Linked DNA regions of Homo sapiens. The protein of the gene in region 1 purifies or fractionates together with the protein of each later gene. This does not show direct contact. Each region holds a gene or a part of one and is shown on either strand. Other genes may lie near its edges.

Region 1 (8,125 bases):
CGTTACAGAAAATTGTATTTGTAAGACACACTGGAGGAAACTGTTAAGGCTGCTCAAGGCAGGGCATCACTATCTCAGCATGCTTGCAGCACACCAATTGGGAAGCTCGGTCTTAAAAGGCCCTGCAAAATACTGCAAGAACTCTCTGACTCGTATTTTGTTTTCGTCTGTCTCATATTTTATTCTTACTTATGCCTACAGTTGTGAAAATACAACCCCTCAACATTTTTAATAGCAATATCCAAAGAAGGCCACAAGATGGAGATATTACTCCATTTTCATTTATATTTGTATTTATGCATTTTTTCTGTATACGTTTCTATGTGTATCCTGCTTTCTTCCTCAGTGGTATTCTCAGCTACTACCTCTATCTCTAACATTATTCTAATTCCTCTGCCACTCGGTTTTAACTTGCTTTATTATAGAAATATATAATGAATACTATCATGATCTTTGTTTTTAATATTAAAAGCAGGCAGATAATTGAAATATTTTCTTCTAGCTCTATATTTTCCCACTTCTCTAAAATTAAGATCACTTTTTTTTTACCCATTTTTATCCTGCGGGCAAACTTTTTTTAAAAAAATTGCTACCCACGAAGTAATAAGTAGTCCAAGAGTCATTTGCTCTAATACTTTCTACTACCTTGTAAAGCTACAGATTTATTACTTTGTGTCAATATCACTCAAAACTTCTCTGGGACTTTTCTTTGAGAACAGTCCTCAAGGCAGTCTATCAGCATTACATGAAATGTATATTCAGATCTTTTTATCAATACAAAGTATTTATCCGAGCTTGCTAACCTAATTTAGTCACCAAATTTAGCTCCAAATGACTGTTAGCTATAGCCAAAAATCAAACCCAACTTTAAGATTTACTACTAATGAGGCTAATGTGAAGAATATGCAGCAAGCTTTGAAGGCAATTCAAAACAAGAAGCTTCAGTGATGTTTTAAGAGACAGCAGCATGTTGAAAAACTGTGAAGCTTTCCACAATAAACACTTGCAAAATCAATCTAATTTACTTTAAGTTAAATCTTATATACTTCCAAACGTGTGATATAAAAAGTCACTCATTGATTGTGTAAAACTACTATAGAACTGCACAACATGGCTGTCATTTGAACTTTATCAAATGTCTAAACTAAAATGCTTTAAACATAAGAAGTTGGCCAGGCGCGGTGGCTCACACCTGTAATCCCAGCACTTTGGGAGGCCGAGACAGGTGGATCACGAGGTCAGGAGATCAAGACCATTCTGGCTAACACGGTGAAACCCCGTCTCCACTAAAAATACAAAAAAAAATTAGACAGGCATGGTGGCGGGCGCCTGTAGTCCCAGCTACTGGGGAGGCTGAGGCAGGAGAATGGCATGAATCCGGGAGGCAGAGCTTGCAGTAAGCCGAGATCGCGCCACTGCACTCCAGCCTGGGTGACAAAGCGAGACTCTGTCTCAAAACAAACAAACAAAAAAACACACAAGAAGTCTATTTCCTACTACATATAAAAGATCCATAAAGAAATATTGTATGATATAATTAAAACACAATTTCCAGACTTCCTACTTTATATATATTTATATTATATATACTTATATATTAATATATTATATATATTTATACATGTTAACTTCCGCAAATCAAACTTAATCACCAACTATCAATACAAAGCACCACTTTAAGTCAGAAAAGAACCTAAATAGTAATCTTATCTGTTAACGAAAAGTGTGGTAATTGAAAATAACTGCCAATAAGATTTGCAATTAAAAAAAATTTTCTAAAAGTCAGAGGTTTCTTTTTAAAGTATAAATTCAGTTGGTCATGGAATAGATTCCTTAACCTGACCTGTTTTAATGGTATAAATAAAGTCCTTAAGTATTGACTAGAAATAAGAAGTTTCTACCTTCCTCATGTGTACGGACCCTAAGATTTCTTCATGGTCTATTCATACTTTCCCAGTAAATGGCAACAATGATCTTTTTCTTTCTGGTCATAACTCATTTTGACTACTGCTCACTATACAGGCCACAGTTGAGTTTCATGTAACAGTTTAAAATTCTATTTCCTTCTATAACCAGGAGTTGTATGTATTCCAGAATGTGTTTAACCAAGGAAATTACGTCATTTTAGAATTCTAGTATTTGCTCTTAGTGGCATCTTAACGTTGCTCTTCTCCATTTTAACACTGCTGCATATACTATGGCATGTCCTTTAATTCTTGATCTTAGATTATTAGCTTTAATATTAAGCAACTCAAATATATTAGTTAACTGTGTAGCTGCACAGAGCTTAATGCCTACTGCCTCAGTAGCAATAAAACAGGCATCCATCTGATAATGAAGTATACTGTTTTATACACATATTCTAACAAAAATGTAGAACGTGGCATGCCCTTGCTTTTGCAATATGCCTGGTTACATGTGAGATTTCAGTTGCTGGATGATGTAATCAGAAACACTTATCAAATATGGTGAATGAATCCTCACCTTGCTTAATTTAGTATTACATAAGATGGGAAATGAAACATAAATTCTAGATTAAATTTCTAATTAGGTCCTTATGACACGCTTAGACAAAAAATTTCAGTAAATATAAGTAATACTCAAATATCAACTATTCAGTTCTTAAAATGAAATACTATGCTGTTATTTAAAACATGTAATCATATTTTTACATTCATTAGTATAGGGCCCATCTTTTACAATTAAGTGTTTTGATGAAAATAAAGATTTTTGAAAATATGACTGTGACTTCATTATAAAATGATCTAGGGTCCTGCTTCATCCAATCAGAAATCTCTCTTTCCACTGCAATTCCTTTCCTTTATTTTTGTATAACTCTGTAAGAAAGGCTTTGGAATTGTTTTCAACTAGGTGGAATTAACTGGTATCATTACTGTCTAAACAGACCCAATAATGCCCACAGTGGAAAACAGTTCTGAAAGTCACATAGTACCATTTATGGAATAAGCAGTTCACTGAGAGAGAGCATAACAAAGCTGAGAAAAGGTTTATTACAGACACTAGGCATTTTATCAAACAACTTTTATTGGCATTACTTACAACTGCCATATAAATTCTCCTCTCAGCAATCAAGTCAAATAACCTCAACCTCTGTTTTATTCTCAACATTGAACAAAATATGATTGTGAAATTAACCACATTAAACCAATCACTAGGTAAACTGGTAACCCATATAACGTTTTAGAATATATTTCTAGGAATAATTGTAATAGCAGAAGCCATTCCACTTTCCCAGTTCAACTTAGGCTATTGTCTATGAATAACAAAAGATACAATATTCTAAGAGTGTTCTCATAATTAGTGTAAAGAAAAAACTGAGAATAGCATAAAAGGAAAAAGGAAACTTAAAACTAAAAGAAAGTCTCTGTTCCATCAGCTCTAGATTATATGTGGCAAAATTTTCACAATAGACTTGCTTTATCCCATAAAATTGGCTCAGGCATCTTCCACTAAACTATACATATCACAAAAAGAGTGTGTACATAAGAAAACTAATTTTATGATAATTCTATCTGATGCAAAGATGTATACAATTAAACAAGTACTTATTCAGCTCTAACGCTATGCATGCCTACATCAGAAATATAAATGACTGAAAGGTTATCTACCATTCTAGATTCTGTGTATCTCTTTCTCCAAATTAAAAAAAATTGGATTCTACAATAAAAATGGGGAAGCTATTATTACACAACACACATGTACAAAGGAATAGACTCCACAGAGAAAGACTGAACTACACTCAACACCACAAGCTCAGTGGATTCCACTGCAAGAATCACTGGACAAAATTGATAATCACAGTACAAATTCACCATCATTCATGAATGAAATCATCATCTTCATTTCTAAAAAGGACTGTGATGGGCTTTAGGGAGGCCCCATTAACTGGTTTTTCCCATCCAAAAAACTGAGTGGACACAGGAGTCGGGCAGACAAGAGATGAACCTTTATAACTGATACAGCTATTGAAGAATACAGGTTAAATGTGATGGCCAAATGGGCTTGCTAGCAATTTGTGCCCTCTCCTCTACATTCTAGACTTTGAGACAGTATGCTCAAGGGTAAGTCTGGTTAGGATAATTGCCTTACTGGTCTGGGCAGAGAGGTGCAAAGAGACTGATTCCCACTACTCATAGCTTTCTGACTGATCAGCTCTTCCTAATCAAGCAAAACAGAGCAAAGGCAATCACCCTCCAGTAAGGTAACTCACACCGCCATGGTAAGATGTTAGAGATGGGTCTAGTGATCAGTGGTGTTTTTTTAGGGAAGTTCCTCCCAACCATGGGGCACGGATGAATGGGCAATAATTGTCCCTCCTCTAAACAGGCTAGCTAATCTGTACATTTGAAAATACAGGCCGAATGAGCTTAAAAGGTTTATTAATTCCTATCTAAAAATTAAAATCCAAATATTTTATAAGCACATCCCTGTTCTTCTGCTTTTCTTCTGTTAACCAAGTTTCAGCATTCATTTGAATATAAGGATTTAGTTATAAAACACGAGAGAAAGAGAATGAAGCACATTTTCTAGCTACATAAATAGAAGTCTGTAATGACTGACTGGCACCATGAAGACAAATCTTGACTTCAGCATAAAGTAAATACTACAAAATTTAAGATAATTTAGCTTGTCATTATTTCAATTCACAGATTTTTTTAAATGAATATGAAGTGTTTACTGTTGGCTAGAATTACTGTATACAAAGGATAAGGAAAGTCATGGTCCCAAAAGACAATTAAAAGAAATATAGAGGCTGGGCGCAGTGGTTCACGCCTGTAATCCCAACACTTTGGGAGGCCGAGGTGGGTGGATCACCTGAGGTCAGGAGTGCAAGATCGGCCTGACCAACATGGCGAAACCCCATCTCTACTAAAAATACAAAATTAGCCAGGCATGGTGGCAGGTGCCTGTAATCCCAGCTACTCGGGAGGCTGAGGCAGGAGAATCGCGTGAACCCAGGAGGCAGAGGTTGCAATGAGCCAAGATCGCGCCACTGCACTCCAGCCTGGGCGACAGAGCAAGACTCCATCTCAAAAAAAAAAAAAAAAAAAAGAAATACAGAATTGCCACTGACCCCACAAGAAGTACAGGTGTCTGAGAAGCAGGTGCTGTTACACAAAATATAAATACTGTGCAGGAACCTATAATTTAAGATGGTAACGAAAGATCTTTCAATAGCACATCTTTTTTCCTACACTCCTCTCTCATCTTCCCCCCATCTCCTCTGAAAAGATGCAATATCCAAATTGGAGTGCCCTATTATTAAAGTCATTCTAAACATGGTATGAATGACTAATAAATCATCTGTATATACCCCCCAACAAAGACTTCTGCAACCCCTTTCTAGACTTCTAGAATGGACGTGAAATCTAAGGATACATGGAAGAAGATTCTTCTGCTGCCTGAAGGCTGTGAAAGATTACATAGAAGTAAAATCTGTTGAGTAAAAACTGTCAAGCAACTACTTGTTTGGGGAATTACAGTTTGCATTTAGTTACAATGTTTATAATGTTTGATTCAATAAATATTTAGGTGTTTACTATGTGCCTTACTATGAAGAAAATAAAAAGCTACCATCTGTCCTAAAAATGAGGCAACTAACTTGTCCAAGGTCATAAGGTGGTCTGGTCCAAGTTCTAAGTCATCTGTTATTCAGATTATAGAGCTTAGAGAGTAACTGAGTTATCTTATACCTGGTGGATAAGGGGATAAAGAAGATGCCACAGACAGTCACTACCATCTCTGCCTTCTAGTTTAGGATATGGATATCTCAAAAGAATGTTCTATATTAATTGTCTCCAATTCTTCCCTTTCATTCTCTCCTGAACCCAATCTACCCAGACTACTGAACTCACCACTTCACCAAAACAGTTCTTACTGAGGTAGCCTGTGACCGCCATACGGTTAATTCCAACGGTGAAGTCTCAAAGCTCATCTTATTTGAATCATCATCATCATTTAACCCAGCTGATCCCTTTGTCTTTGAAACACTTTTTTCACTTGACTGAAGAGAACCTTGTATTGGTTTGCCTCCTACCTTACTGGTCGTTCCTGCTCTATCTTCTTTGTTGATTCCCCTCCATCTTCTTGACTCTTTTTTTTTTTTTTTTTTTTTTGAGACGGAGTCTCGCTCTGTCGCCCAGGCTGGAGTGCAGTGGCACAATCTTGGCTCACTGCAACCTCCGCCTCCCGGGTTCAAGCAGTTCTCTACCTCAGCCTCCCGAGTAGCTGGGATTCCAGGCGCCTGCCACCACGCCTGGCTAATTTTTATCTTTTTAGTAGAAACGGGGTTTTACCATGTTGGCCAGGCTGGTCTTGAACTCCTGACCTCGTGATCCACCCGCCTCAGCCTCCCAAAGTGCTGGGATTACAGGCGTGAGCCACCACACCCGGCTCCTTGACTCTTAAAGTCTGGAATCCCCAAGGCTTATTAGCTCCCAGATCTCTTCTCTTCTCTTTTACGTTCACTCCCTTGGTGAACTCATCCAGTTTTGTGGCTTCAAGTTACTCTCTAAGTGCCTCGGACTCCCAAATTCCTATCTACAGCCCTAAACTTTCTTCTTGTAACTCTACACCTGAATAACCAATTGCCTACATACCAGCTCAACTTCAACGTTTAACAGACACCCCAAATTTAGCATGTCCGTAAACCAAATTCCTGATGTTCTCCAAACCAGGCTCCTAGTCCAGGTTTCTCCATCTCAACAAATGGCAATTGCATCCTTCCAGTTACTGAAGCCAAAAATCTTTAGAATTATCTTCAGTTTCTCTTTTTCTCTCGCATACCACATTCAAGCCATCAGTAAAATTCTGTTTGCTCCATGTTGAAATTCAATCCAGAATCTGACCATTTTGCACCACCTCCACTGCTACCACCCAGGTCCAATCTATACCACAATTATCCCTCTAAGTAACTAATGCCTCACAGACTATACTCAGTACACTAAAGAGATCATTTTGAAATTCAAGTCAAATCATGTATCTTTTCTGTTCAAACACCACCTCCCCCAACTTACTTATAAGTAAAAGCCGAAGTCCTTACAATGGCCTACAAAGCCCTACATGGTCTTCCCTTACCACCTATGACTCAGATCTTGTCTCCTATTGCTGTTCTCCCATTACTGTTTTCCTTGATCACTCTGCTCCAGCCACACTGCCTGCCTTGCTATTCCTCAAACGCTAAGCAAGCTCTTGCCTCCTGGCCTTTGTGCTTACTGTCTGCTCTTCCTTGAATGTCCTTCTACCATGCTATGGTCTGAATGTTTTTGTCCTTCGAAATTCTTATGTTGAAATCTAATCCCCATTGTGACAGTAATACAAGGTGGGGCCTCTGTGAGGTGATTATATCACGAAGGTGGAGTCCTAATGGATGAGATTAGTGTCCTTATAAAAGAAGCCCCAGAGAGCTGCCCTGCCCGTACCACCATGTGAGGACACAGCAAGAAGGTGCCATCTATGACCAGAAGGCCCTCACCAGACACAGAATCTGCCGGTGCCTTAATCTTGGATTTCCCAGCCTCCAGAATTGTGAGAAATCAAGTTCTCCTGTTGAAAAGCTGTCCAGTTCATGGCATTTTGCTATGGCAGCCCAAATGGCCTACAACACAACAATTACCCACATGGCTTACTCCCTAACTTCTCTCAGAGGCCTGCTCTGACCATATAACATTTATATTTACTTACTTGGCTGTTTACTGTCTGTTTCTCCCTACTGAATTATAAGCTTAGGGGTTTTGTTTTATATAAAGGTCAACTCCCAATGCTTAAAATCCAATAGGCACCAAACAAATCTCTGTTGCGTGAACAAGAAGAGATTAGTGCACAGAGCCAGGTCACCACTTTCAGCAGCCTACCTACTTTGTTCTGGTCCCTCATGTTTGGCTAGTCACCAAATGGCTCTGGCTTGAAAACTACACATGAAAGACCCTGGACAGGTTGCATTTGTCTCCACCAAATTTCTGGTCCCTGAAAGTCATCTAACAAAGTTAAGATTCAATGTAAAGAAAAAAACTTGTTCCATTCAGTTTCTCTGCTTGGACAGAATAAAATTCCTCCTGGCATTCTTTCCAATTTTAATACAGCTGGATAGAGAAACACAGGTTAA
Region 2 (8,125 bases), on another chromosome or scaffold:
TTATTTAAAATGATTCATCAGTTTTTAGACATAGTTATTCCCATTTTAACATCTCGAGGCATCTTAAAATTAATGGTGTCTGACAGGTGGCACTTGAGACTTACTTGTCTTTGCCTTAAATAATTTATTTTCTTATGCTTTCCTTTTCATATATGCCCAAGAGGGAATGTGATATAATTTATATCCAGCTAAGATTAAAAGATATTTCAGTAAGTGTAAAATTTTAATCCTCTGATAAAAAAAGTATTGTCATAGTTTAACTGGCAGCAGTTTTTCTCTCCAGTGGCATCTTGGTGTCTCAGATTCAAAGAAACTTTTCTGTAGCAATTAAGCCTATTTAGCATTATGATGCAGTGATATATTTTTACAGAGAATTCCCATTAACCAAATTCAGGAATATGTCTTTCTACCTTCAAAGAACACCTACTGTGCTCCTTAATGTGGGTTTAATGTAGATGAATCGTGATCTCTTTTGCACATGCGTGATTTCTTTCAGTACAGTCTTAACACAGCCCAACTACTTCTAATGGGTAAGAGTTCTCCCTGCTTATAATCAATGAAATGAAAACAGCTACAGTTCCCATAAACGTGTAAATGTTTGCTCTTCACCACAGAACTATGGGAATGTTTTCTTGAGATTGTTAAATATATGAAATATTTTATTTAGAGAGAAAACTTTTACCTTAGAGCAAAGAGTTCACCGATTTTCTGCATAACTTCTTCATGAGATAGTTTCACTTTCTTCCCAGCTTTTAAAGCCTAGTTGAGAGGGAATCGGAAAAACCAAAAAACCATGTATCTCTCTTTCTAATAAGCATTAGGTCAACAGGGCAAAATCTGAAGTGGCATAATTTGGATCCTATGTAAATATTTTTTAGGATGGCTGTCTCCCAGATTAATGTCTTAACTCACCTTGAAATTTCATAATTTTATTAGGTAGAAATTGTATATTCTCTTTTTTCATTTCCCTTCTCATCAGCATTTTCAATGATATATACATTCCTAATCTCTTAGTAGAAAAGCAGGGCCTCCTTTCCGAAGTATAATTAGATTACTCTTTCACAATAAAGACACAGTTAATTACAATATGATGATTTTTAATGTATACTGAAATTTCAATATAACTTTATATGTATTTTTCATACCACTATTTTTCTCATAATTTAGCAAAACACTTTCTTAAATCAGGAAAAGTGGTCATAATTTCCATTCTCAGAGAGAAACATTTCACTTTTTTCTTTAATTCAGTTACATTAAAAATACTGCAACTGACGGGCATGGTGGCTCGTGGCCTGTAATGCTAGAACTTTGGGAGGCCGAGGCAGGAGGATCGCTTGAGCCCAGGAGTTCAAGACCAGCCTGGGCAACATGGCCAGACCCCATTTCAATTATATTAATATTAAAAAAAAAATACTGCACCAACAGAGGAAACAATTTGAAGTTTTAAAAAGTAAAAAGTAATCAATATGAAGTTTCTTAATTTGTCATTTTATATGTAACTGGGAGTTCTTAAGTTTACTGTAGTTTTCTTATTGTTTGTAATAATGTTGTTGTACTCCTAAACAATCGGCCCTCTATAAGTTCTGCAACTGCAGATTCAACCAACTGCAAATTGACAGTATTTTGAGAAAAAAGAATGGTTGCATCTGTACCGAACATGTACAAACTGTTTTTTCTTGTTATTATTTCCTAAATAATACAGTATAACAACTATTTACATAGTATTTACATTATATTAGGTATTTTAGGTAATCTAGAGATGGTTGAAAGTATACATGAGGATATGCATAGGTTATATGCAAATATATACCATTTTATATCAGGGATTTGGACACTGGTAGATTCTGGTATCCAGTGGGGTCTTGGAACAAATCTCCCATGGATACTGATGGATAGCTATATATTGTTATATTGGGAAATTCATATTTTTTACATATAAAAATCAATCCTTGAATAAGCATAAAATTGATATAATTACCTCAGGAATTGACTGAATAGATTCAATAAATTTATCCAGTGATGCTTCCCAAATTGCCAGTTTTACTGGGAAAAAAATTAATAATGGAACATTTCTTTATCATCATATTCACATGTATATAAAATACATAATTGCACAGCATCTTCACTACTATTTCAGTAATAGTTTAAGAAAAAGTACTAAAACCTTGAAAATATAATTTAAGAATAGTTAATTATCATAAAGGACAGAATTAAAGTGGATAGAGGAAACTGAATCGCTTTCCATGCCCTATTGGAAGACCAAAGCTACATTTAGTAGAACTCTTGATTTTCTAGTATTACATCTTGGAAACTGAGGAGGGTAGGGTACACCTTGATACCATGGGTAGCTCTGCAGATAGGGCGCGACTAAGACTTTCCTGGCCTCCCCTTCACTCCTCAGGACTAAGAGTAAACCTCAGAAATCTCCGAAGCCCCTCAGAGTGGGATGGACAGGACGCTGCAGCAGCCACCTAAGGTAGACTGCTGGCAAAAGAAATTCTTAAAGAACTTGTATAGTTTTATTCGGGATGTGGATCTTTCAGAACAAACTTATAGCCACTGTGACTCTGGGTCCCATTCCTATGGAACACTAGAGTATGTTTTTCTACACTGGGACCTGTGCCCAGTCACACAAGGCTGGGCTTCTCTGTCTGGATTAGAGACTATCTAAGAATAACAATCGCATAGAGAGAAGAGAAAAAAACAAAGGCTAATATAATCATCATCTAAAAAATACTTTTGGAGAGGTTAAGCTTTATTAATACAATTAATAAGGAATGAGTAACTTCAGCACAGTACTATCTTTTATACTAGATATTTTTTCTGATGGAGGGAAAAAAAGGAAAAGGAATGCTAAGGCTTTGTTGAGTATTCTGAAAATATACCAAAATCGTGACTATTTAAACTTCCCTCAGTGAAATGACAACTGTAGTACCCTATCCCATAAGCAGTAGTAACTTACCAGAAAGGCATAGAGCATTGGAGAAAGCAAACTTCTCTAGAATGGCATCATCTAAATCCAGCTCTGAATTTAACTTGATTTCCCCCCTGTGAAGTTTTGACTGTCCCCTGTGAAAAGCAAAAAGATAATACCTTCTAAATCTTAAAAAGCACTTTAACTTTTCCTTTGAAAAAGACACCATATCATCTTTCTGGAGGTCATTTTGACAATTTGTATCAAGAGTGTTACAAATGTTCTCATATCCTTTGGTCCAGGTAATTCCCTTTCTAGGAGTTTATCCTAAGGAAATAATCTAAGATGCAAAGAAAAATTTGTATACAAGAAAACTTTTTTTTTTTTTTTTGAGACAGTCTCACTCTGCCGCCCAGGCTAGAGTGCAGTGGTGCGATCTCAGCTCACTGCAACCTCAGTCTCCTAGGTTCAAGCGATTCTCCTGCCTCAGCCTCCCTAGTAGCTGGGATTACAGGCATGCGTAACCACACCCAGCTAATTTTTTTTGTATTTTTAATAGAGATAGAGTTTCACCATGTTGGCCAGGCTGGTCTTGAATTCCTGACCTCAAATGATCCACCCACCTCGGCCTCCCAAAGTGGTGCGACTACAGGTGCGAGCCACCTTGCCCAGCTGAAAACTTTTAAAAAAATGGTCAGTGTTGGCTGGGCACGGTGGCTCACGCCTGTAACCCCAGCACTCCGGGAGGCCGAGGCAGGTGGATCACGAGGTCAGGAGATTGAGACCATCCTGGCTAACATGGTGAAACCCCGTCTCTACTCAAAACACAAAATAAAATTAGCCGGGTGTGGTGGCGGGCGCCTGTAGTCCCAGCTACTCGGGAGGCTGAGGCAGGAGAATGGAGTGAACCCGGGAGGCGGAGCTTGCAGTAAGCCGAAATCACGCCACTGCACTCCAGCCTGGGAGACTGAGCAAGACTCTGTCTCCAAAAAAAAAAAAAAGGTCAGTGTTTAAGAGTAAAAAATTAGGAAATAAACCAAATGTTCAGTAGGGGTTGGCTCAGTAATAGTCACTCCACACAAGAAAAACTTAAAAGTGTGTTTTGGAAGGATAGTTAATAAAAAGGAGAACGTTCACAGTAAATTTCTATGTGAAAAAATGCTGCATATAAAACTATATATGGAGTGTAATCTAAAATCACACTGACATGATGGGGTTGGGGAGGGAGGCAAGGAAGTTGTGAAAAATGAGTATGTGACTGTGGAGAATCCTAGACAGGGGACAGGGGAAGAGCGGAATGTGTGAATATAAACATCACAAGCAAATGGAAAAAAGACAGGGTAAACCTTCACAAAAGATGTCAGACAAGAAGTGACGGCCAAAGGGAGGGGGACAAGGGGCCTGATGGAGGGCGGCATCTGCTATGACAGCCTCAGATGGAGGAAGGAAAGCAAAGACAGCAGTCACAAGAGGTCTTTTTTTTTGAGACGGAGTCTTGCTCTGTCACCCAGACTGGAGTGTAGTGGCGTGATCTTCGCTCACTGCAACCTCCGCCTCCTGGGTTCCAGCGATTCTCCTGCCTCAGCCTCCTGAGTAGCTGGGATTACAGGAGTGCACCACCACATCCAGCTAATTTTTATATTTGTAGTACAGACAGGGCTTCACCATGTTGGCCAGGCTGGTCTTGAACTCCTGACCTCAAGTGATCTGCCCGCCTTGGCCTCTCAAAGTGTTGGGATTACAGGCATGAGCCACTGTGCTTGGTCACAAGATGCTTTATGAGTAAACTGGGCCCATGCCACAGAGCTGAGCAGATCCCTGGAATCATGGCAGAACTCACATAATAACCATGTAGGTGGCAGCCAGGACAGTCTTTCTGACGAAACAAAATAACTGACTCTGGGATCCTAAGCACTGAGGATTTTACTCCTCACAGACTGTACAGTAACGTGTGTGTGTGTGTGTGGATAAGCGTACACACACACACACACAAGGGTCTAGCAGTAGTTGGATATGGAAGTATTTGGTTGGTGCAAAAGTAATCGCGGTTTTTGCCATTTTAATGTAAACCTAATAGAACACAGAAAGGGGATTCACAGGAGCTGTATCTGCAGGCCAAGGGCTGAGTAACTACTAAAGATAATAAAACTACAGGCTGCTCATTTGCTGTCTCTCTCAGGTTTATATCCTTACCTCTGACTGCAGCCACCACTGGGCTCAGGCTGACTCACAGTCAGGTGCCCTTTGGCAAGACAGGATTCAATAAATCTCATCGGAAAGCCAGTTAGCTGCAATTATAGGGTTTTCCCCAGGATTAAATGAAATAATACATGGAAGGCACTTACTTAGAAAACCGTGACTGGCCCTATTGGTGGTGAGCGCTGATTACTCAGCTCTTATCCCCATCTGGTCTTTCTATAGCTAGTCTCTGTCTCTCTTCCAAGTCTTCCCAAAGCTCTGCTTTTAACGCTTTTTTTTTTTTTTTGAGACAGAGTCTCACTCTGTTGCACAGGCTGGAGTGCAGTGGTGCGATCTCAGGTCATGGCAACCTCTGCCTCCCAGGTTCAAGCAATTCTCTGCCTCCGCCTCCGCCTCCCAAGTAGCTGGGATCACAGACACTCGCCACTATGCCCGGGTAATTTTTGTATTTTTAGTAGAGATGGGGTTTCGCCATGTTGGCCAAGCTGTCTTGAACTCCTGACTCAGTTGATCCTCCCACCCTGGCCTCCCAAAGTGCTGAGATTACAGGTGTGAGCCACCAAATCTGGCTAACACTACCTTTCTTAAGAACCTGCAAAGACTCATATTTCACTAGACAGGTAACTCCATGAGGAAAAAGACACTACCATCTTGTTCATACTGCCTCTGTCTCGGCCCTAACATCTCTTCATTTTTTCCCTCTGGCTGAGTCAGGAAAATCAGCTAGTCTGTTGCCTACCCATTTATCTTAGTGAAACTGGTACACCAGGTCCCACTTCTTCCAGCACCCACACTTCTACAAGTGGGTCTCTTAGATTGACCCCTCACTATACTTCCTTTTCATACCCCCACCCCCCAAAATCAATAGGAAAAAACTGGATTAAGAGAAAAATTTACTGGAATAATTTGATAGGTTCATTTGATAAATGCATACTATTTTATTGGATTAGGCTGATTAGAAACTTAACATTTCCATTTTGGGGCTATACTACTGACTTGTTTTAACTTGTGGATAGCCTGAGAAGTTCAAAAAATTATGTTTATCTTCTAATATTTATTATATGGTTTAGACTTTGTATTTGTACCAGTAATCTTTTTCCTCTTTTTTTTTGAGACGGAGTTTCACTCTTGTCACCCTGGCTGGAGTGCAATGGCGTGATCTCGGCTCACTGCAACCTCCGCCTCCCAGGTTCAAGCAATTCTCCTGTCTCAGCCTCCCGAGTAGCTGGGATTACAAGCACCCGCCACCATAACCAGCTAATTTTTGTATTTTTTAGTAGAGATGGGGTTTCACCATGTTGGCCAGGCTGGTCCTGAACTCCTGACCTCAGGTAATCCACCTGCCTCAGCCTCCCAAAGTGCTGGGATTACAGGTGTGAGCTACCACGCCTGGCCACTTTTTTCTTAAAAGTAAGTTTCCAGGCCAGGTCCAGTGGCTCACGCCTGTAATCCCAGCACTTTGAGAGGCTGAGGTGGGCGGATCACCAGGTCGAGATCCAGACCATCCTGGCCAACATGGTGAAACCCTGTCTCTACTAAAAATACAAAAAATTAGCTGGGCGTGGTGGTGCACACCTGTAGTCCCACTTACTCAGGAGGCTGAGGCAGGAGAATTGCTTGAACCCGGGAGGCAGAGGTTGCAGTGAGCCGAGATTGTGCCACTGCACTCCATCCTGGGCGACAGAGTGAGACTCCGTCTCAAAAAAAAAAAAAAAGTTTCCATATGCATAATAATTTGTCTCCTCTATTGCTTTACCTAATTTATTCCAAGTGCCCCTTTCATAAATTTGATGAAAAGTTGCTTACTCTATTTTTATGTAGTTAAGTTCTTCATTTTCCCAGTGTACCAGTGCGATTTCATAGGGCTGAATTTCATGTTTTTCTAGAACTTTCATCACATGCTTCATCTAGAAGAAAAGGAAGATTAATCTGAAATCATAACTGACTCCCTCAGTTCAAGTATGTTATGATTTTAATGCTTATAACAGTCTTCATTACACTTACAGGCATTATTTCTGTTGCATGTTTTTAAGGAAAAGGCAAATCAAATCCATTGTGATATTAAAGTAATCAGGATGACATGTTCATTTGTTTTTACATTTGGAAAACACAGATGAGAATGGAGAAGAAAATCAAGGTTATCATTATCCCACAACCCAAGGAAAATCACTAGTAATATTATAATTTGTATTCTTTAAATCTCTTTAATAATCCCAGCATTTTGGGAGGCAGAGGCGGGTGGATCCTTGAGCTCAAAAGTTCAAGACCAGCCTGGGCAACGTGGCAAAATCCTGTCTCTACAAAAAAATACAAAAATTATCTGGGTGTGGTGATGTACACCTGTAGTCCCAGCTACCTGAGAGGCTGGCTTGAGCCTGGGAGGTGGCGGTTGCAGTGAGCCAATGTCAGCCGGTGTGACAGAGCAAGACCCTATCTCAAAAAAATAAATAAATAAAAAATAAAAAGTAAAGCCCAACATACTAATAAAAAATTAAGCCACACAGGTGTGGGAGGTGATCATCTCTTTCTCTCTTCTGTACTGAAATCCTAATCCCCAGAGGCAACCATGATTAAACTTGGTGCATATCCTTCCAGACTTTTTATGTGTATATATGTACATATTTATGCTGCTTTTTATGTAAAATAGGATCATATTATGCACATGACATTTTCAACACTATTTTCCTTTACAGACGAACTGCAATTTATTTAACCAACCTAGGTGTGTCCTCCATGGGGAATTTTTTCTACTCTCCATTACAATGTTGCGATGTGCCACACTTGTGCAAAGGTCTTCATGGCTTTGTGGGAATACTTCTTTAGGAATTGCTAGATCAAAAGATATGTGGACTTACACAATATGTATATATGTAACAGACAGGGTCTCACCTTGTCACCCAGGCTGGAGTGCAGTGATGCAATCATAGCTCATTGCAGCCTCAAACTCCTGGGTTCGAGCGATCCCCCTGCCTTAGCCTCCCAAGTAGCTGGGACTACAGGTACACACTACCA

The links.
Region 2: the proteins of DNAJC1 (region 1) and RMND1 purify together in Homo sapiens (affinity purification with mass spectrometry; 2 studies listed by BioGRID and IntAct, with this or other methods). This does not show direct contact.

The regions. Positions count from the first base shown.
Region 1 is NC_000010.11:21,993,337-22,001,461, forward strand, and holds part of DNAJC1 (dnaJ homolog subfamily C member 1 precursor), read right to left. Parts: intron 1-8,125. UniProt on the Homo sapiens protein: May modulate protein synthesis.
Region 2 is NC_000006.12:151,420,563-151,428,687, forward strand, and holds part of RMND1 (required for meiotic nuclear division protein 1 homolog), read right to left. Parts: intron 7,021-8,125; coding exon 6,920-7,020; intron 3,070-6,919; coding exon 2,963-3,069; intron 2,044-2,962; coding exon 1,979-2,043; intron 760-1,978; coding exon 683-759; intron 1-682. UniProt on the Homo sapiens protein: Required for mitochondrial translation, possibly by coordinating the assembly or maintenance of the mitochondrial ribosome.